3 linked regions of the Homo sapiens genome follow. The protein of the gene in region 2 interacts with the protein of the main gene of each other region in a pairwise test. Each region holds a gene or a part of one and is shown on either strand. Other genes may lie near its edges. The genes, in order: THAP12, KIAA1958 and RWDD2B.

Region 1 (7,354 bases), on a different chromosome or scaffold from region 2:
AGAACATTTTCTCACATTTGCGTTCATTTATTCAAGATTGAAGAATCATTTAGAAATTAAAAAAGCAAACCTGGCTCATCTTTCTGTTCTATTCTCTAACTAAAGAATGTAAGAATGAACTATCCTTTAAATTTCTCACAATCTGGTTAGAATTATCTAATTAAGAGACCATATTTATTACTAAAATAAAAATGCAAAAATGCATATGGCAAATGTATTTAAAATAATTTGGGATATTTTTACTTCATGTCAAGAACATAAAAGTAGTTTGCCTTTTAAACATATGAAACCTTTTATTTTGGTTGATCATTATTACCCTTTTAACAAATCAAGGCAAAAATATTCCTCAAATATTTGTGATTAAACTGTTGAACCGGAATTGGCTCACCTCCCAATGACTTCACAAGTATCTGCTTCAATTAATTTTGAGAAATAAAATAACCCAATCATTCTTTAGTTTTCTGATGCCTCTGCAAAATGTATCTGAAAAAAATATCAAAATAAATTGCTGCATAACAACATATAGTGTACCTTTGAATCAAGTTTATGTCTATCCCAATATCTGAGGTGTTACATTAGTTACACTGAAACAAGTCTGCTTCATTTCAATCAAATTTGCCTTATTTGTGCCTTTTATAAATCACAGCAAGAGAATCACAGAGGGTTAAAAATCTTAGAACTCAGGAATTACCTGGCCTAATCTCCTTATTAGGAACTGGGGCCCAAAGAGGGGAAGTGACTTGGCCAAGCTCACACAGTTAACAGTAGGTCCTGATATGAAATTACATATTATTGATGAAAATGTTTTTCCACATTACCTGGATAATTTGTTTACCATTATATCTACCACATAAAAATTAAAAGTTGGTTCTAATAGTACATACAAAAACATGAAAACAAGAGCTCCATTCCGAGATGAAAATTTTACTCATAAAAAAGCTCTAAAGAGCTCCAAATAAAAACACCAACTTTACCTTAAATAAACATATACTTTTATAATCATCTAAAATTTTCCTGAAGACTAAATAATATTTAAAAGTGGTTACCTCAGCCGGGTGTGGAGGCTCATACATGTAATCCCAGCACTTTGGGAGGCCGAGGTGGGCGGGTCACTTGAGGTCAGGAGATTGAGACTAGCCTGGCCAACATGGAGAAATCCCACCTCTACTAAAAGTACAAAAATTAGCTGGGCGTGGTGGCACAATGCCTGTAATCTCAGCTACTTGGGAGGCTGAGGAGAGAGAATCGCTTGAGCCCAGGAGGTGGGGGAGGTGGCAGAAGTTGCAGTGAGCTAAGATAGCGCCACTGCACTCCAGCCTGGGTGACAGAGCAAGACTGTCTTTAAAAAAAAAAAAAAAAAAAGTAGTTACCTTGGGTGAGTAGAAATGGGGCACCAGGAACCGAAGAGTTTTGTTTTGTTTTGTTTTGTTTTAATCATTTTGAGTTTTTTTTCCAGACAAGCGCTCACTCTGTCGCCCAGAGTGGAGTGTAGTGGCATGAACACAACTCTCTGCAGCCCCGACGTCATGGGCTCAAGTATCCTCCCATCTCAGCTTCCCAAGTAGCTGGGACTACAGGCATACGTCACCACACCTCGCTAGTTTTTTTGGTATTTTCTGTAGCGACGGCATCTGGCCATGTTGCCCAGGCTGGTCTCAAACTCCTGAGCTCAAGTGGTCTTCCTGCCTCGGCCTCCCAAAGTGCTGGGATTATAGGCCCCCGGCAAAATCAGGATTTTAAGAACAAAACAGATACTTTTCAGCTCCAAATCTGTCTTCATCTTAAAGTGGCAGGATATAGGAATACCTTCCAACATTGGTAAATACTTACATTTCCAACCAGACACAGTGAGAGAGAGAAATCAAGTCAAACAGAGAGACACCAAGCTCTTCTATTACTCACAGTTCTACAGATCATAGAGGTCTCAAAATGTTTGGCACATAATCGATAATGTTTATTTAGCTGATCAGGTGTTTTATCTTCTAAGTCTGCTCTCCTACAGTTCTCCACCCACTTCTGGCATCTATAAATAAAACCAAAATACAATTATGAAAATGAGCTCAGCATTTAAATTTCAGCCTTCAGTTTTAAGGCAAACATACATTAATAACAACGGATTCCTGCTCCCCTCCCTGAGAACATAATTTGGAGAATTTGATTAATAACAAAATAACAGTTGGAAAAAACCTTAGAAGTCATTTAGTACCAACATTTCAATTACAGACAAGGTTAAGAAGTAACTTGTTTGGAGGGAAGTACAAAATCATCAGCAGAACTAGAACTGAAACCTGCATCTTCCAACTCCCAAAACATCAGAGAAGATTCAACCATCAGCAGAACAAGCAGAAAGCTGCATGCACAGCCACAAGGCTCACAGCTTAACATTCCCTTCAGGATTTCAACTTCAACAAGCATACAAAACAACACTGTCACTGTAGAAAATCAGCAATTAGGCCGGGCGTGTTGTCACGCCTGTAATCCCAGCACTTTGGGAGGCCAAGGCAGGCAGATCAGGAGGTCAGGAGATCGAGACCATCCTGGCTAACCCGGTGAAACCCCGTCTCTACTAAAAATACAAAAAATTAGCTGGGCGAAGCGGCGAGCGCCTGTAGTCCCAGCTACTCGGGAGGCTGAGGCAGGAGAATGGCGTGAACCCGGGAGGCGGAGCTTGCAGTGAGCCGAGATTGCGCCACTGCACTCCAGCCTGGGTGACAGAGCCAGACTCCGTCTCGGAAAAAAAAAAAAAAATCAGCAACTAGATGTTCTTTAAATAACTAGTTTCTAAGGGAAGCATAAAGGCTGTATTCGTTTATCTTCCTATGAACACAAATTATTATCTACAGTAATACGTGCTGACTAGATTGCAAGCTCCATGAATGCAGGGACTGTGACTACACAATCTAGTACACAAAAAGTGTTGAAGACAGAGAACAAGACAAAGTCCATGCCCTCTCGGTGCTTAAATATTTTCAGAAAAGCTAATAATAAGCACTTATTATGAGCCAGACACGTTCTAAGTCCTTTCCAAAGATGGGTACTATTAATATCCCCCTTGTGCAGATGAAGGCACAGAAATATTAAGTAACTTGCTAAAGTCACAACTAGATCTTTCCTCAAATTTCTTTTCTTTTCTTTTTTTTTTTTGAGACAGAGTTTTGCTCTTGTTGCCCAGGTTGGAGTGCAATGCCATGATCTTGGCTCACTGCAACCTCTGCTTCCCGGGTTCAAGCGATTCTCCTGTCTCAGCCTCCCAAGTAGCTAGGATTACAGGCATGCGTTACCACGCCTGGCTAATTTTGTATTTTTAGTAGAGACTGGGTTTCTCCATGTTGGTCAGGCTGGTCTCGAACTCCCGACCTCAGGTGATCTGCCCGCCTCGGCCTCCCAAAGTGCTGGGATTACAGGCGTGAGCCACCGCGCCCGGCCCATTCCTCAAATTTCTAAGAATAAAAGTTCTGCCGTGGATAAACAGTATCACAAATTATTTTTTTGAGATGGTGTCTTGCTCTTTAGCCCAGGGTGGAGTGCAGTGGTGTGATCTCAGCTCACTGCAACCTCTGCCTCCCAGGTTCAAGCAATTCTCCTGCCTCAGCCACCCAAGGAGCTGAGATTATAGGCGTGCACCACGACACTCAGCTAAGTTTTGTATTTATAGTACAGATGGGGTTTCAGCACGTTGGCTAGCTTGGTCTCGAACTCCAGATCGCAGGTGATCTGCCCACCTTGGCCTCCCAAAGTGCTAGGATTACAGGCGCGAGCCACTGCGCCCGGCCCAACATATTCCTTTATAATTAAATCACAGTATTTTTTTTTTATGTTTTAACACTATTGTCCACCTCCCCCCAACATACATGCCCCTGACACTTAATTCTCTCTACTCTAAAAATGTCAAATCAAGGTAAAATGCTATGATTTTTAAAAAACTACACCTAAATTGTACAGCATTTCATTTGACCAACAAGTATTACTGCTCACAGTAACGATGCCTAAGATGTTCACAATTTAATCACACTTTTACACAGTTGTACATTATGATTATAAACATTTCATGTTTCAAAATCCAAATATTAAGTATAAAAACGATCTCACTATAAAATAATTTGCCATACTGCTACAGTTGTTTGTTTTTTAAATTCTTAAATCTCTGGAGACCTTCCACACAGAGCAATACTGTACATATTACCTCCGAACTAAGTTGAAACAGCTTTCTGATATCAACAGCAACTCTTATTCAGACAATCAAGAACAGAATGGGCATCAGGCAGAGAGCCTAATCAAATACACCTGACTTTCTATATGAACTACTTAAGAATAAATCTAGTGAAAGAAGTGCAAGACCTCTAATAATCTTTTTAAAGCAAACTTAAATAAATACACAAGTTTATGAACTGGCACACTAAATTCCAAAGATGTCAATTCTCCCCAAACCCATTTACTAATTCAATATAATCACAAGCCCAGTAAGTTTGTGAGAGAGAGCAAGAGAAAGAAATGACAAATTATTCTAAAACTTTTTATACACAACATTAAAGAACCAGGGATAACCAAGATAATCTTGAGAGAGAGAGAGGAAAAAGGAGGTTGAAAGAATTACACTACCAGATATTAAGACTTACTGTAAAGCTTATTAAGACAAGTACTGGCAGAAGGACAGAACAGTGAAACAAAATAGAGCACTGCAGATACTTAAAGGTAGCTCTGAACAGCAGCAAATATGGATTTTTCTTTTCCAATAAATAGGGCCGAGTCAGCTGAATATCTACATGAAAAAAATAAATCTTAACTCCTACTTGTACACCATACACAAAAATAAGTTCCAAGTGATTGGAGATCTAAATATGAAAGGTAAAACAATAAAGCCACTAAAAGATAACACAGGAGATTATCTTCATGACCTTGGAATAAAGATCTCTTAAGGCAACAGCACAAATGCTAGAGGAAAAGATATATAAATTAGGCTACTTTAAAGTTAATAACTTTTCTTCATTAAAAGAAGCCATTTAAGAGTGAAATGGCAGACCACAAAATGTCAGATATTTGCAATACATATATCTAACAATGGACTCACATTCAAAATATATATGAAGAACTCCTACAAATAAATAACCCAACATAAAAATAGGCAAGGGGCCTTGAACAGGCACTTTATAATAAAAAGGTTATAAAAATGGCAATACATAGATGAAAAAAAAATGCTCGATCTCATTTGCCATCAGGGAAATGCTAATTAAAGCCAAAACAAATTACTACATACCCACAAGAATGACTACAATGTAAAAGAGGTAATACCAAATATTGGGGAGAAGGTGAAGTAACTTTGCCCATCAACAGCAGGATGGATAAATTGTGGTATATTCATTCAATGGAATACTACTTGGCTATGAAATGAACAAACTATCTACAATCTCACAAACGTAATGTTAAGCAGAAGAAGCCAGGAGTACATACTACATGATTCCTTTGATATGAAATTCTAGAACAGGCAAAACTCATTCATAGTGATTGTTCAGAAAAAGAGTTAACACAGCAGACCTCAGGCTGCTGTCCTTAGAAAGGCCTGTTTGTTAAGGACCTTGGGCTGGTATCCGGGAACTTGGTTGGTAAACAGTTCCATACACAGAAATAAAATTTTTCCTAACTGATAATGCAGCTCAATGTGCCTAGACTGCTTGTGCAAACAAGCACACCTGCTGAACACCTGCCATCCCTTCTGGGAATTTGGAATTTTATTATATGCCAGGCAGAGGCTGCCTATGTGATCAGGACCCAGTAAAAACCTCGGACACTACGTCTCTAACGGTCTTCTCTCCACAGAAACACGGCACGTGTTGCCACATTTCCACCACTGGGGAAAAACGGGCTCTGGGTGACCCCCTCATGGGAAAGACGGAGCATAGGGAAGCCTATACATGGATTCCTTCAGACTGTGCCTGTCTTTTTCCCTCATGATCCAGATGTGTATCCTTACTACAATGCAATAAATCTTCACTGTGAGTACAACCATATACTGAGTCCTGCAAGCCCTTCTAGTGAATCTTTAAATATGGGGTGGTCTGGCTCCGCCTCAACACAGTGATGGAATAGCAGATACATTTGGGGAGGGTAACAACTGGGAGTGGGCACAAAAGAGGCTACTGAGGTGCTGCTAATGTTCTATATCTCAAACAATAATAAAGCTTCCATTCATTCTCCCTCTTCCCCCCAAAACCTAACTAATCCAAGGTATGTGAAGTCACAGTGGCTACCACTGGGGAGAATGGGATAATGGCTGGGAGAACCATGAAGCAGAGGAAGTTTGGGACGCTAGTGATACTCTATTTTTTAAAAATCCCGGTGAAATTTTCATGGATATGTTACTCTGAAAATCCAACATGATGTACAGTTATCATTTGTGATCTTCTGTGCATATGTTTTTTGGGGTTTTTTTTTGAGAGAGAGGATCTCACTCTGTTGCACAGGCTGGAGTGCAGTGGTGCAATCTCGGCTCACTGCAGCCTCCATCTCCTGGGTTCAAGCGATTCTCCCACCTCAGTCTCCCATGTAGCTGGGACTACAGGCACACGCCACCATGCCTGGCTAACTTTTTGTATTTTTTGTAGAGACGGGGTTTCACCATGTTCCCCAGGTTAGTCTGAAACGCCTGGGTGAAGTGATCGTCCTGCCTCGGCCTCCCAAGGTGCTAGGATTACAGGCATGAGCCACCGCACGTAGCTCTTCTATGTATACGTTTTTACATGAATAAAATTATAAAAATTATATATGACCGGGAGGCTGAGGTAGGAGAATCACTTGAATCCGGGAGGTGGAGGTTGCAGTAGGCCAAGATCGCACCACTGCACTCCAGCCTGGCAAGAGAGCGAGACTCCGTCTCAAAAAAAAAGAAAAAAAAAAAAAATATATATATATATGACCACAATAAGTGTTTTCACATGTGTATTCATATGTGTATTATGAATATGTATATATATTTATATACATACATACCCACTTACATACTCGTCTCAAATTTTTACCAATGCCTCCCCTTTCCCAGCTCTCCCTGTCATTGTTCTGTTCCCTGTACTCCAGATTTTGTAGACTTTTCCCTTAGCACAGTGGAATGACTCCCCAAATCCATCTGCTTCTCTCCATCAATAACACCCTGGTCCAAGCTACCATAATTTTTTACCTGGTCTACTAGTATCTCTTCCAAACTGGTCATCTGCCCTTCTCTAACCCCTTCTCCGTGCTGCAGAGCATTTTTTAAAGCCAATTTGAGAATGTCTCTCCCATGCTTAAGCTTTTAGTGGCTTCTCATTACTCTCAGGATAAACAACTGTGTTCACTTCTATCCTGGGGCCTTCCCTGCGCTGTT
Region 2 (7,354 bases):
AAGAAATGGCTAAGAAAATAAATTTTAGTCTTGTTTCTTTCTTTGTGTTTTTTTTTTTTGAGATGGAGTCTCGCTCTGGAGCCCAGGCTGGAGTGCAGTGGCACAATCTTGGCTCACTGTAACCTCTGCCTCTGGGGTTCAGGCAATTCTCCTGCCTCAGCCTGCCGAATAGCTGGGACTACAGGCGCCTGCCACCACGCTGGGCTAATTTTTGTATTTTCAGAAGAGATGGGGTTTCACCATGTTGGCCAGGCTGGTCTTGAACTCCTGACCTCAGGTGATCCACTCGCCTTGGCCTCCCAAAGTGTTGGGATTACAGGCATGAGCCACTGTGCCCAGTTAGTCTTGTTTCTTCTTGTAAGAAGAGGCATATATTTCTCATGGAATAAAGAAATATATAAAATATGTGTCTATGTATATATATATACATATATATGTATGTATACACAAGCACACATATTTATACATATTTCCACACTTAGAACACTTTTCCAATATACACTGCCTTTAAATAAAACACGTAACAACTCTTCTTATCTGCCCACATAAAAAAAACTAAATGCTCAAAAGAAAACAAAACAAACCTCCCATAAACAGTAGTAGGAATCTCTGGTTTACTGCCCCTCTCAAGAATCATACCTAGAATGTTCTTGGAAGAATACTTCCACCCCACGCTCACACTCAGCTATGTAGTTTGTGTAGGCTTGGTCTCAATACCATTTCCAGGGTGGGGGCCTGATCCCCCTATGCGTGATTTAGGGGTGACTGGGAATGCTGTGACACAGGTTCTGTCTACTGCTAGACAAGAAACCAGCAGCACAACCATCTTGGGTCCACGCAGGGGTCAAGTATAACAGGTGAATCTAATAGGGAGGAAGGCAAGGTGGCAAATGGCAAGAGGGAAACTTGATGCTGTCTGAGCCTGAGTGAAAGCTGGTTTGAAAATCTGTCCTTGGACTATAAGGCAGTCAATTCTCTCCTTTAACTTATTTCAACTCAGATTTTTTGCTTCTGACAAGAGAAACCATTATCTATTATGTCAACACAGATCAAATAACTGGCAGTAATACATACCTTAATCAATTTTTAAAAGCTCACTGAACTCAATTTTACATGAGTAATTTTTCAAAAAGCATATTAAATGACTTAGACTACATTTCTTTCTGAATGCATTTTTTGTATAAAATACAATCACCATAAATTTATACAAATAAATACTCAAACAGTAAAAATCAGAAGAAAAAATAAAGAGATCAATAAAAACAGAACTGAAAACAAGAAAGAGACCCAATAATAAACAAAAATGTGGTATCTGAATCAATTCAGCGGAGAATGAGAATTATTCAACAAATGAAGCTGAGACACCTGACTACCTGCAAAAATAGTAACATGAGGTTCTACCCCAAAAGGTATTCTAACTGTAAAGTCAAATGTCAAAAAAAGAAAGGGAGAGGAGAGGAGAGAGAAAGAAAACCATAAAAGAATAAGAGGGAAATACAGAGAAATATTTATGTGATCCCAATGTATGGAAAGGACTTCCTAAGCAAAATACCAAAGACAGAAAAGATTGATTGACTGATAGATGTTGAAAGAATTGCCTTCATAAAAATTAAGAAAATTCACACCTTAAAAAAGGTCATCAACAAAATTAAAAGCTAATGGTAAAGTGGGAAATGTATTTCCAATATACGTGAGAGACTATGAGCTACTTGGGAAATGTATTTCCAATATACATGAGAGATTATGAGTTACTATTTCTAATATATCCAGAACCCATATGAATCTATTAGAAAAAGATAAATAAATTTTTTTAAAAGAAAAAATATATATACATACAAATCTGATAGGCAAAAATGGATTGCTTATACCACAGAACTGGGAAAAAAGCTGATTAATAAAAGGGATCCTTACACAAAATCATAAAAGAAGCTATGTGTATGTAAGTATATTGAAGAAATATAATATACACATAAAACCCTAACTCATGATGCGATAGAGATTTAAATGTCATTATGACAAATGCCCCAAATTTACATAAAACCTCAAAAATTAATGGAATCCAAGCTACTAGTAGGTAGTCAATAATTCTTCTAATAATAGATGCCCTCTTTACTCATTGTTTGCTAAGATTTGGATTGAGCAGTATGGCAGGATTGACATGAAAATTAATGATTTTATCTATACCTTGATTAACATTTTATAATTTTATGAGTTCAGCTCTGAACAGAAGTAGGGATGATTTTCCACTATGGGAATCAAATTTAAATGGCAACAGTAAAACCAAACAAAATGGAACAATTTCTCTTTGTTTCTGGCTGACTCAATAGTCATTTGTCAAATTATTTATTTTAAAAATATTATCTAAAGATACGCAGTATTTCTGCAATGATCTGATAAAGACTCAGTACAGAGCATCCATTTTAAAAGAACCTGACTTAGCTTTCAGAACCTGTCTTCTTTGCTTAGTCCCAAGTACGCTTTACATATTAACTGTGTAAGGTCCATCCGTAACCAAGTCATTCACATACATCTGGGTGTGCTAGATTCTAAATTTTTTAAAATCTATGTTTAGAAAGATTATCTACTATAAATAAACATGCAAACACAAACACATAACTAAAACTTTAGAACACAGAATCTAGTTAGGTACTAAAGTAAAAAGTAAATTTTATGTTAACTTTATACAGTTCACTCAAAAGAAAAATATGAGTCTGATTTTTATTTGTCCCACTGCTGTTTCCAGTTCAAACAGTATATCTCTAAAGCTAATGACATCTTAGCAATATGATACCCTTCCCGAGAACAATGGATCAAAATATGAGGACCATCCTTGGAAAATCGTCATGACCAGTCTTCATAGTGTTTTTCTTAAAGGTTTACCTCCAAGCCAAACTAATCCTCCTCTGAGAATAAAGCCAAATCACAATTTATGACAGTATATATTCTGTGCTCTCTTTGGCCATGCCAGCTTTTCATAGCTAATATAAGAAGTGCAATTTCCATGAGGGAAGAAAAAAACCTAAGAGAATGTAATACACACAATAATAAATGGATTCGTTTTTTTTTTTTCAAATAGGCTGAATTTCTTTCCCAAAATAATGAGACAGTAATATATTCATATATGGTTTAGCAAAGCGCCTCAGTGCCTCATTTACTATCCACAAGGCAGATGCAGAAAAGTCTTGCATCTTGCTTTGCAGGGATTAGTGAAAAGGTATGCAACACAACTAATACTCTCACCAAACTGGGTACACTGGACCACTTTGCAAAATACATTTCTGAATTCTACCCTATTTAAATGAAAAAAAAAAAAGGGGGGCAGGAGAGTTCAAATAAATAAATAAACTAGAACTAGGTTCATAACCATTTAAGTGAAAAGGTGCTACTTATATCCTACATATATCAAGAGTCAGATTTCCTAGAACAAAGACTTTCACCAGCCTAATAAAGATAACATTTTGTCTCATGATGAGATTAGTCAAGGACCACATTGTTATTCAATGATCAAAGTATAATTCATTAAAATATTTTTTAAAAGAAAGAAAGAAAAAGACAATCCATGGGATGGGAGAAAATACTTGCCAATTATATACCTGATAAGGATCTCATATTCAGCACACATAAAGAACTCCAAAAACTCACCAATAAGAAGGCAATTTTAAAATGGCCAAAAGATTTGAGTAGATATTTCTCAAAAGAAAATATACAAATGGCTAACAAGCACATGAAAAAAATCTCAGTACCATTAGTCATTAGGGTAATGCAAATCAAAACCCCAATAAGATACTACTTCACACACCCAATAGGATATTTATTATTTTTTTAAACATGAAAAATAACAAGTGTTGGTGACAATGTGGAGCAGTAAGAACCTTTATAGATTACTAGTGAGGCTGTACAATGATGGAGCTGCTTGGGAAAACAGTTTGACAGCTCCTCAAAAAGTTAAATACAAAGTTACCACAGGACCCAGCAATTCCACTCCTAGGTAGTTACCCAAGCAAGATAAACATACACACCCACACAAAAACCTGTTCACAAATGTTCACAGCAGCAGTATTCATAATAGCCAAAATATGAACACAACCCCAATGTCCATCAACTGATGAAAGGAAAAATAAAATATGGTATAGTCATACAACAAAATATTATTTGGCAATAAAAAGGAAAGAAACGCTACAACATGGATTAACCTTGAAAACATAATGCTAAGTGTAAGAGGGTGGTCACAAAAGACCACATAATATATGATTCCATGTATATGAAACATATAGAATAGGAAAATCCATAGACAGAAAGCAGATTAGCAGTTGCCAGGAACTAAGAGGAGGGAAAAAGTGACTGTTAATGGGTATGGGATTTCTTTTTGGGGTGATGAAAATATTCTGAAATTAGATAATAGCGATAGTTGTACAACTCTATGAATACACCAAAACCCACTGAACTGTACACTTTAAAAGAGTGAATTTTATATGTGAACTGTATCTCAATAAAACTATTATTTAAAAAAAGATAAAAGTGAATAAACTGAAAAGCATAATCTTCAATCAGGATATAAATATTTTCAGTGAATATCTTCTTAATAACACCATGACTATGTCTTCAAAAAAATCATAAATGAAAGGTCTTCTTTGGGAATCTTAAAGTTGATACTAAAATTGGAAAAAAGAAGTTTGTAAAGCAACTTAATCCAAGGACGTTTCAGGATGAAGGCACAGGGGCCTCAGGTTTCTAGGAAGCTTTTCCCAAAATACACGACGTTTTTGAGAAGGGCTGAAATAAACTAAAACATGCCACAGATTTCTGCACATTTGTTCATCCTTGTCCACGTTTCTATTCTAGCCTACTAGAATTGAGTCATGAAGCCAAAGCATGAGATCCAACCCCTTTATATACTAATGGCCCAGATTAAATAAACATTGAATGTCAGAATTAAAGAACATTAGAACGTTAGAATTACAGGTGCAGGGGCCTCGTACAATTATTTCATTCTCCTCTCAATCCATTCCCATTGGCTCACAGATTCCAGAAATGCAAGTTTCCATATTCTTTTAAATTTTAAGAGAAAAGATCAAATACCTCTTTTAGAAATGTACATTGCTTTTTAAAATACTTATTAACTACCAGAGCAACTAAAATGAATAGCAACGTCAAGTTGGCTCAGTCAAATAAATAATACGAAAAGCATTAGGTCTATTGTCATGATATGCCTTACCCAACATTATTTTGGCTTCAAACAGCAACTAAACACCTTGCTACTGATGGAGAAGCATATTTTTAAAACTTTCAAAAATAACTTTACTATATAAAAATTCAGCTGACAGGTATCAACCTTAAATCTAACGCTGCAATATCAACAGAACAATCTTACAGCTGTCCTCTCAGCCCTAAGGTACGTCAACTAGATATGGCCATAATTCTTATGAATTTCCTGTATAGTATCACCTGGATGTAACACAGTCATTGTTTCTATCTTTCTATGACTAACAAAGGACTGAATTCTAGCAAACTGAGTGAATGGTTTTAGAAGTGCTGACGGCGCAGAATTCTGGCGTGCGTGGATGAGGGACTCACTGTCGCCTCATGTGCCATACCTGGTATGCACTGTGCTGTGGCCTCAGTGGTTATGGCTGGAGCGACTGGGGGCTGCTGCTGACTGGAGCTCACTTCTGGCTCTGTGTTAACTGAGGGAGAAAGGGCTACCTCACAGGAGGAGACCTGGCTGGGCAGATGGGACAGGAACTCTTCAGAGGCAACTTGCTCATCCTGTCCAGGCAGCTGCAGGGCAGACAAGGGGATACTGATCTGTTTGTTAGGATGGGATGTGCTCACAGGCATTTGCATGGCCACCTGTTGGTTGGTGCCATGTGTACCAGGGGGTCCTCTGTTTGGTGAAGCCAGAGATACCCTAGCAGTCTTCTGGACAATTGGTCTGGAGATCACAGAGGGGGATGCAGACATACCGTGTGGGTCTAGCTCCGTGCTGATGGCAGATGTGACATGGGGAATCAGTTTAGCAGACCCTACACAGGAGGGACCAGCGTGAGTCTGAGGCTTGGGTTTTGCCATCTGTGTCAAGGACAGGGCTGGTCCATCTACTCCTCCTGTCAGTTCTGCATTTGCCACAATGTAATAATCTTCGGGGATTTCTTGTTTGATTTTCTTGATGATGACATCATTGCTGCATTCGTCAACCATCTGCGTCTGGGAGCTTGAATGGAGGGAAGATGGGACTACCCCAGGTCTTTTGCGAGCAATGCTTTGAGGCCTTTGGGTTTGGGGTTCAAAGTCACTATCCTCATCTGTAACAGAAGACTCACAAACCATGTCAAACAGGGTGTTCTCATCTTCATATTCTTCAACAGTTTCATCCAGTTCAGAGGGCTCACTACAGTAGGAGAAGTCACAAGAGTCTCTGGTCCGGTTACAGTCTAGCTTTGCTTTCACTGGTCTCCCAGGGTACCTTTCAACAGGGCTAGTCTGTGTCTCAGAGGGCACCCCGATTATACTGGGACTATCAGAGTTAAAACTTCTGTTATCCTGGAAACAGACCCTCTCTTGGGACCCAGCTCTGCAAGTAGCTGTTAGTGGCCAGTGATAAGCATGGCCAGCACTACAGCCCCACATTGCTGTCAGGTTCCCATGGGAACCTTCAGAAAGCAAGTGTTTCAGGTTTGGAATGAGGCTGCAAATAGTCCCATGGCTATGGGCCCAGCTGACCAATTTGGACAGATTCTCAGATGAGGTATGAAGACAATCCTCCATGTTACAGGATCAGCAGTGTCACTCCTAAAGGGAAATAATCAAAAGAAGAAGCCATTATTACCCAAGATAATCCTATAGCTCAATTACTTCAGTTTGTTCCAAATATGATCATTTGGCATAAAAAAAAAACGCACTTCAAAACTGAATCTAGTTAAGGTCGCTGTAGATGAGCAGGGACTGGAAGAGAATACCAGGAAAAGTAAAAACAGCTGATGACTGATGGTTGTGGGATTTGGAGAAAAATTTTGTTACTTTTCTTTATTGTTATAATAATTCCTGCCTAAGGGGGGAAAGAAAGGAGAGAAAGAAAAAGAGAAACAAGCAATAAAGAAATGAGCTTTTCCATGGTACATTTTACTTCCAAAGTCACTGACAGAGAGGTTCAGATGGTCCCTCAATAATAAAATTGTGTCTATTACTTGCATTAACCAAGAGGATGCAGCTCCAATGACACCCTTTGTCATCAGAAACTTTACTACTAGAGGCAGAGCCAACAAAGGAGGTTTAGATCCATCTTAGGACGGAGGTCAGAGAGAGCAAGCCAGTCCTCTACTGGGCACCAGAAGACAATGCAACTGGGAGTCCAAGG
Region 3 (7,354 bases), on a different chromosome or scaffold from region 2:
CTTCTTTTTAAGTAAATATTAATGTTTATTAGGTTTTTTTGAGACAGGGTCTAGCTCTGTCACCACAGCTGGAGTGCAGTGGCATGATCCCCGCTCACTGCAACCTCAACCTCCCACGCCCAAGCAATCCTCCCACCTCAGACTTCTGAGTAGCTAGGACCACAGGTATGCACTGCCACGCCCGGCTTCATTTTTTATTTGTAGAAACAAGGTCTTGCTATGTTGTCCAGACTGGTCTTGACCTCCTGGGCTCAAGCAATCCTCCTGCCTTGGCCTCCCAAAGTGCTAGCATTACAGGTATGAGCCACTGTGCATGGCATTTATTAGTTTTTTTTTTTTTTTTTTTGAAACGGAGTCTCGCTCTGTCACCCAGGCTGTAGTGCAGTGGCGCAATCTTGGTTCACTGCAAGCTCCACCTCGGCGCGTTCACGCCATTCTCCTGCCTCAGCCTCCCAAATAGCTGGGACTACAGGCGCCCAACACCACACCCGGTTAATTTTTTGTATTTTTAGTAGAGATGGGGTTTCACCGTGTTAGCCAGGATGGTCTTGATCTCCTGACCTCATGATCCGCCCGCCTCGGCCTCCCAAAGTGCTGGGATTACAGGTGTGAGCCACTGCGCCCGGCCTATTTATTAGTTTTTAAGAAGCAGAGGAACATAAAGAGAAAATAAGTGTTAATTGTCCTGTAGCTTAAGTCACCCCTGTTAACATTAAAACATCTTAAGCATTATACATATATATATGTGAAAAATGCTGGTATAATGTATAAATATGTACAATGTGAGATATATACAGTATACATATTTAAATCCAAAGGGGATAATATATACTTTTTCCTCCTATTTCCTATCTCCCTCCCCACCAAATATATTTTGTAGATCTATTCACTGTCAACATATAGTGATCTACCTCATTCTTTGTAACTGTCGGCTGTTATACTGAATCATGTAGATATGCCATAACTTATTTAATTCTTTACCTATTGATGGACACTTGGGTTGTTTCCACATTTTTACTAATATGAACAATCCTATAATGCAAGGTCTTTTTATATATATAGTATGGTAAACTGAATACTGTGTATTCAATAATAAACTTACAGAGGTGGATTGTTGTATCAACATGTACATTTTAAATTTTGATAGATATTGCCAAGTTACTTTCCAGAAAGTTGCCATACAGAACAGAAATTTACAATTGTACTCAGTCCCCTGCTTCTTTTCTTTAAAAGAAAATTCTTAATACATAGTTCCTTTTGGCCTAGCACGGTGGCTCACACCTGTAATCCCACCACTTGGGGAGGCCAAGGAGGGTGGATAGCTTGAGTCCAGGAGTTTTAGATCAGCCTGGGTAACATAACGAAACCCTGTCTCTACTAAAAAATACAACAAAATTACCCGGGTGTGTTGGTGCGTGCCTGAAGTCCCAGCTACTTGGGAGGCTGAGACAGAATCACTGGAACCTGGGAGTCAGAGGTTGCAGTGAGTTGAGATCGTGCCATTGCACTCCAGCCTGGGCAAAAAGAGTGAAACTCCGTCTCAAAAAATAAAAATAAAAAAAAAAAACCAAAAAAAACCCTCTCCCTCTCCCTCTCCCGTCTCCCCATGGTCTCCCTCTCCCTCTCTTTCCACGGTCTCCCTCTGATTCCGAGCCGAAGCTGGACGGTACTGCTGCCATCTCGGCTCACTGCAACCTCCCTGCCTGATTCTCCTGCCTCAGCCTGCCGAGTGCCTGCGATTGCAGGCGCGCGCCGCCACCCCTGACTGGTTTTCGTATTTTTTTGGTGGAGACGGGGTTTCGCTGTGTTGGCCGGGCTGGTCTCCAGCTCCTAACCGCGAGTGATCCGCCAGCCTCGGCCTCCCGAGATGCGGGGATTGCAGACGGAGTCTGGTTCACTCAGTGCTCAATGGTGCCCAGGCTGGAGTGCAGTGGCGTGATCTCGGCTCGCTACAACCTCCACCTCCCAGCAGCCTGCCTTGGCCTCCCAAAGTGCCGAGATTGCAGCCTCTGCCCGGCCGCCACCCCGTCTGGGAAGTGAGGAGCGTCTCTGCCCGGCCACCCATCGTCTGGGATGTGAGGAGCCCCTCTGCCTGGCTGCCTAGTCTGGAAAGTGAGGAGCGTCTCTGCCCAGCCGCCCTGCCATCTAGGAAGTGAGGAGCGCCTCTTCCCAGCCGCCATCCCATGTGGGAAGTGAGGAGCGTCTCTGCCCGGCCGCCCATCGTCTGAGATGTGGGGAGCACCTCTGCCCTGCCGCCCCGTCCGGGATGCGAGGAGCGTCTCTGCCCGGCCACCCGGTCTGAGAAGTGAGGAGACCCTCTGCCTGGCAACCACCCCGTCTGAGAAGTGAGGAGCCCCTCCGCCCGGCAGCCGCTGGGTCTGAGAAGTGAGGAGCCCCTCCGCCCAGCAGCCACCCCGTCTGGGAAGTGAGGAGCGTCTCTACCCGGCAGCCACCTCGTCCGGAAGGGAGGTGGGGGGGGGTCAGCCCCCCGCCCGGCCAGCCGCCCCTTCCGGGAGGGAGGTGGGGGGGGTCAGCCCCCCACCCGGCCAGCCGCCCCGTCCGGGAGGGAGGTGGGGGGGTCAGCCCCCCGCCCGGCCAGCCGCCCCGTCCGGGAGGTGAGGGGCGCCTCTGCCCGGCCGCCCCTACTGGGAAGTGAGGAGCCCCTCTGCCCGGCCAGCCGCCCCGTCCGGGAGGGAGGTGGGGGGGTCAGCCCCCCGCCCGGCCAGCCGCCCCGTCTGGGAGGTGAGGGGCGCCTCTGCCCGGCCGCCCCTACTGGGAAGTGAGGAGCCCCTCTGCCCGGCCAGCCGCCCCGTCCGGGAGGGAGGTTGGGGGGTCAGCCCCCCGCCTGGCCAGCCGCCCCATCCGGGAGGGAGGTGGGGGGGTCAGCCCCCGACCCGGCCAGCCGCGCCGTCCGGGAGGGAGGTGGGGGGGTCAGCCCCCCGCCCGGCCAGCCGCCCTGTCCGGGAGGTGAGGGGCGCCTCTGCCCGGCCGCCCCTACTGGGAAGTGAGGAGCCCCTCTGCCCGGCCAGCCGCCCCGTCCGGGAGGGAGGTTGGGGGGTCAGCCCCCCGCCCGGCCAGCCGCCCCGTCCGGGAGGGAGGTGGGGGTGGTCAGCCCCCCCCCGGGAGGTGAGGGGCGCCTCTGCCCGGCCGCCCCTACTGGGAAGTGAGGAGCCCCTCTGCCCGGCCACCACCCGGTCTGGGTGGTGTACCCAACAGCTCACTGAGAACGGGCCATGATGACAATGGCGGTTTTGTGGAATAGAAAGGGGGGAAAGGTGGGGAAAAGATTGAGAAATCGGATGGTTGCTGTGTCTGTGTAGAAAGAGGTAGACATGGGAGACTTTTCATTTTGTTCTGTACTAAGAAAAATTCTTCTGCCTTGGGATCCTGTAGATCTGTGACCTTACCCCCAACCCTGTGCTCTCTGAAACATGTGCTGTATCCACTCAGGGTTGAATGGATTAAGGGCGGTGCAAGATGTGCTTTGTTAAACAGATGCTTGAAGGCAGCATGCTCCTTAAGAGTCATCACCACTCCCTAATCTCAAGTACCCAGGGACACAAACACTGCGGAAGGCCGCAGGGTCCTCTGCCTAGGAAAACCAGAGACCTTTGTTCACTTGTTTATCTGCTGACCTTCCCTCCACTATTGTCCTGTGACCATGCCCAATCCCCCTCTGCGAGAAACACCCAAGAATGATCAATTAAAAAAAAAAAAGTCTTCTATTTTCTATTTGGAATACATTTTCAATTTCTGCATTTAAATATTTGATCCATCTGGGATATACTTCACTTTAAAAGGTGACGGAAGTTTCCAGCTTATTTTTTTTTTCCAGTTAACTAGCCATTTTTACCAGTACATCTTATAATAAATTTGAAATGTTTCTTTCAACATATGTTAAGTGCCTATATGTATTTGAGTCTTTTTCTGGATTCTCCATTTTGTTATATTGATCTGTCTATAATATCATGTCCTAATACTCTTTTTTTTTTTTTTTTTGAGACAGAGTCTCACTCTGTCACCCAGGCTGGAGTGCAGTGGTGCGATTATAGCTCGTTGCAGCCTCGAACTCCTAGGCTCAAGCAATCCTCCTGTCTCAGCCTCCCAAGTATCTGGGACTACAGTCATGCTACCACCATACCCAGCTAACTAATACTCAACTCTTGAAATCACTATGATGGGTTAGTAAATTGCTCCTACTCTGTCTCTTCATAGCCATCACTCTTCTTTTCTAGAATTCTTTTTTGGTATTTCCTGGCTTTTCTCACATATAAACATTAGAATAATTTTGTTAAGTTTTGAAAACAAGAAAAAATGGTAATTGCATTGAAATTAAAGATTAGGCCTGGCGCGGTAGCTCACGCCTGTAATCCCAACACTTTGGGAGGCAGAGGCGGGCGGATCATGAGGTCAGGAGATCCAGACCATCCTGGCTAACACAGTGAAACCCCACCTCTACTAAAAACACAAAAAATTAGCCGGGCGTGGTGGCCGGCGCCTGTAGTCCCAGCTACTCGGGAGGCTGAGGCAGGAGAATGGCGTGAACTCGGGAGGCGGAGCTTGCAGTGAGCCGAGATCGCGCCACTGCACTCCAGCCTGGGCGACAGAGTGAGACTCCGTCTCAAAAAAAAAAAAAAAAAAGAAATTAAAGATTAATACAGAAAAAGACGATATGTTTATAACGTAGAATTTTCCCTTCAGTAGTTTTTTTAATAGCTTTAATGAGGTATAATTTATATGCCATACCATACTACTGCCAAGCAAGATCTTTAAAATGTTAGCATCCCTTAAGGTTTGGTTGAGGACATCTTTATCTTCTCTATTGTCTCATGGTACCAAGTATTACTGAATATTAAATGTTCACAATTCTCAAATTCTTAGGATGTTCCAAATTCTCGAGCCCCATATTTGTAAATTTAACTATATCTGTATATTTCTATTGGATGTTATATTAGTTCATTTTCTGTTACGATAACAGACTACCTGAGACTGGGTAGTTTACGATGAAGAGAAATTTATTTGGCTTATTGTTCTGGAAGCAGGGAAATCCAAGAGAATGGTGCCTGCATTTTGCAAGGGCATTCTTACTGAGTCATCCCATGGCGGAAGGCAGAGGGCAAGAGAGAATGAGAGCAAGTGCAAGAGAGATGAAGGGGCCAAATGCATGCTTTTATCAGGAACCCACTCCCACAATAACTAACCCACTCCTGCAGTAACACCATTAATCCATTTGTGAGGGCCCTGTTCTTTGGGAACTTTTTCAACCCTGCCTTCTTTCTCTTCTTCTGAAATGCTGATGACAGGAATGTTACATTTTTTGTTATATCCCTGCATATCACTTAATCACCTCTGAAAGGTCCCACCACTCAACTCTATTGCTTTGGGATAAAGCTTCTAACACATGAACTTTGGGGCACACATTAAACCACAGCAGAGACCATCTCAGTCTTAACAGTCCTAAAATAGGTCTAAATGGCCTGGCGCAGTGGCTCACGCCTGTAATCCCAGCACTTTGGGAGGCCAAGGCAGGCAGATCATGAGGTCAGGAGATCAAGACCATCCTGGCTAACATGGTGAAACCCCATCTCTACTAAAAATACAAAAAATTAGCCGGGCGTGGTGGCGGGCACCTGTAGTCCCAGCTACTCAGGAGGCTGAGGCAGGAGAATGGCGTGAACCCAGGAGGCAGAGCTTTCAGTGAGCCGAGATACAGCCACTGCACTCCAGCCTGGGCGGCAGAGCGAGACTCCTTCTAAAAATAAAAAAATAAAAATAAATAAAGTAAAATAAAATAGGTCTAAATTATATTTCTTTAATAATAATTCTTTTATTATTTCTTTTCTGTTTAGAGAACCTATTTTAACCATTCTTTTAGGATAGGTCTGCTGGTGACAAATCTCCTAGATTTCCTTCATCTTAGAATGTCTTGATTTCCCCTTCATTTCTGCAGAATATTTTCACTGGATGCAGTATTCTGGCTTAACAGGTTTTTACTTTCAACAATTGAAAAATGCTGTGCCTCTTCACCTAGCCTCTCTGGTGACTGATGAGAAATCACTCTCATTTGAATTGTTTTCCTTTACAGATAAGGTTCATTTTTGTCACTAATTTTAAGAATTTTTCATTGTCTTTGGTTTTCAGAAGTTTGATTATGATGCGTTTTTTTTTTTTTTTTTTTTTTTGAGATGGGAGTCTCACTTTGTCACCCAGGCTGGAGTACAATGGTGCAATCTTGGCTTATTGCAACCTCCACCTCCCAGGTTCAAGCAATTCTCCTGCCTCAGCCTCCTGCGTAGCTGGGATTACAGGCGCACACCACTACGCCCAGCTAATTTTTGTATTTTTAGTAGAGATGGGGTTTCACCATGTTGGGCAGGCTGGTCTCGAAATCCTGACCTTGTGATCCACCCGCGTTGGCCTCCCAAAGTGCTGTGATTACAGGTGTGAGCCGCCACACCTAGTCTTTTTTTTTTTTTTTTTTGAGATGGAGTTTTGCTCTTGTTGCCCAGGCTGGAGTGCAATGGCACAATCTTGGCTCACCACAACCTCCGCCTCCTGGGTTCAAGTGATTCTCTTGCCTCAGCCTCCCGAATAGCTGGGATTACAGGTGTTCGCCACCACGCCCAGCTAATTTTTTGTATTTTTAGTAGAGAAAGGGTTTTATCATGTTGGCCAGGCTGGTCTCAAACTCCTGACCTCAGGTGATCTACCTACCCTGGCCTTCCAAAGTGCTGGGATTACAGGCGTGAGCCACCATGCCCAGCCCCATATGGTTTAGGTATTTATCCTAGACAAAAGCAATCCTAATTAGGCGAGAGACTATATGGGCACAATTCTTATTTGTGACTTCTCAGAGTCTTAAACTGTGAATTTCCAAGAGGGGTGTTCAGTATTCTGTCTGACTCCAGAACATGTTTTTCCAGGCCAAATGACATTAGCCCTCCTCTCCACAGAACAGAGCAGGATTCCTTATTTTGCCATGTAGTTACCTGAATTTAAGTAGTTTAAATATAAGCATTTAAAGTATCATAAAAGATGGTGGGTAGCCTTGATAATATTTATACATATATTAACATATATTTATTAATATGTCTATTCATGTTTAATTTGAAGTTTTCCTCTTCTAATAACTGTTGGAACTGCAAATATTCCTCCCTCCTTTAATCGCAATGTTTTCTTTTGTTTTTTTTCCGATTTTTTATTTATTTATTTTTTTGAGACGGAGTTTCGCTCTTGTTGCCCAGGCTGGAGTGAAATGGTGCAATCTCGGCTCACTGCAATCTCCACCTCCCAGGTTCAAGCGATTCTCCTGCCTCAGCCTCCCAAGTAGCTAGGATTACAGGCATGCGCCACC

What was found.
Region 1: the proteins of KIAA1958 (region 2) and THAP12 interact in binary tests that used the Homo sapiens proteins (3 or more experiments, as listed by UniProt).
Region 3: the proteins of KIAA1958 (region 2) and RWDD2B interact in binary tests that used the Homo sapiens proteins (3 or more experiments, as listed by UniProt).

What each region holds. Positions count from the first base shown.
Region 1 is NC_000011.10:76,363,950-76,371,303, forward strand, and holds part of THAP12 (52 kDa repressor of the inhibitor of the protein kinase), read right to left. Parts: intron 2,024-7,354; coding exon 1,903-2,023; intron 484-1,902; exon of another isoform or gene 389-483; intron 1-388. UniProt on the Homo sapiens protein: Upstream regulator of interferon-induced serine/threonine protein kinase R (PKR). May block the PKR-inhibitory function of DNAJC3, resulting in restoration of kinase activity and suppression of cell growth.
Region 2 is NC_000009.12:112,573,492-112,580,845, reverse strand, and holds part of KIAA1958 (uncharacterized protein KIAA1958), read right to left. Parts: intron 6,790-7,354; 5' UTR 6,766-6,789; coding exon 5,595-6,765; intron 1-5,594.
Region 3 is NC_000021.9:29,009,066-29,016,419, forward strand, and holds part of RWDD2B (RWD domain-containing protein 2B), read right to left. Parts: intron 628-7,354; exon of another isoform or gene 530-627; intron 1-529.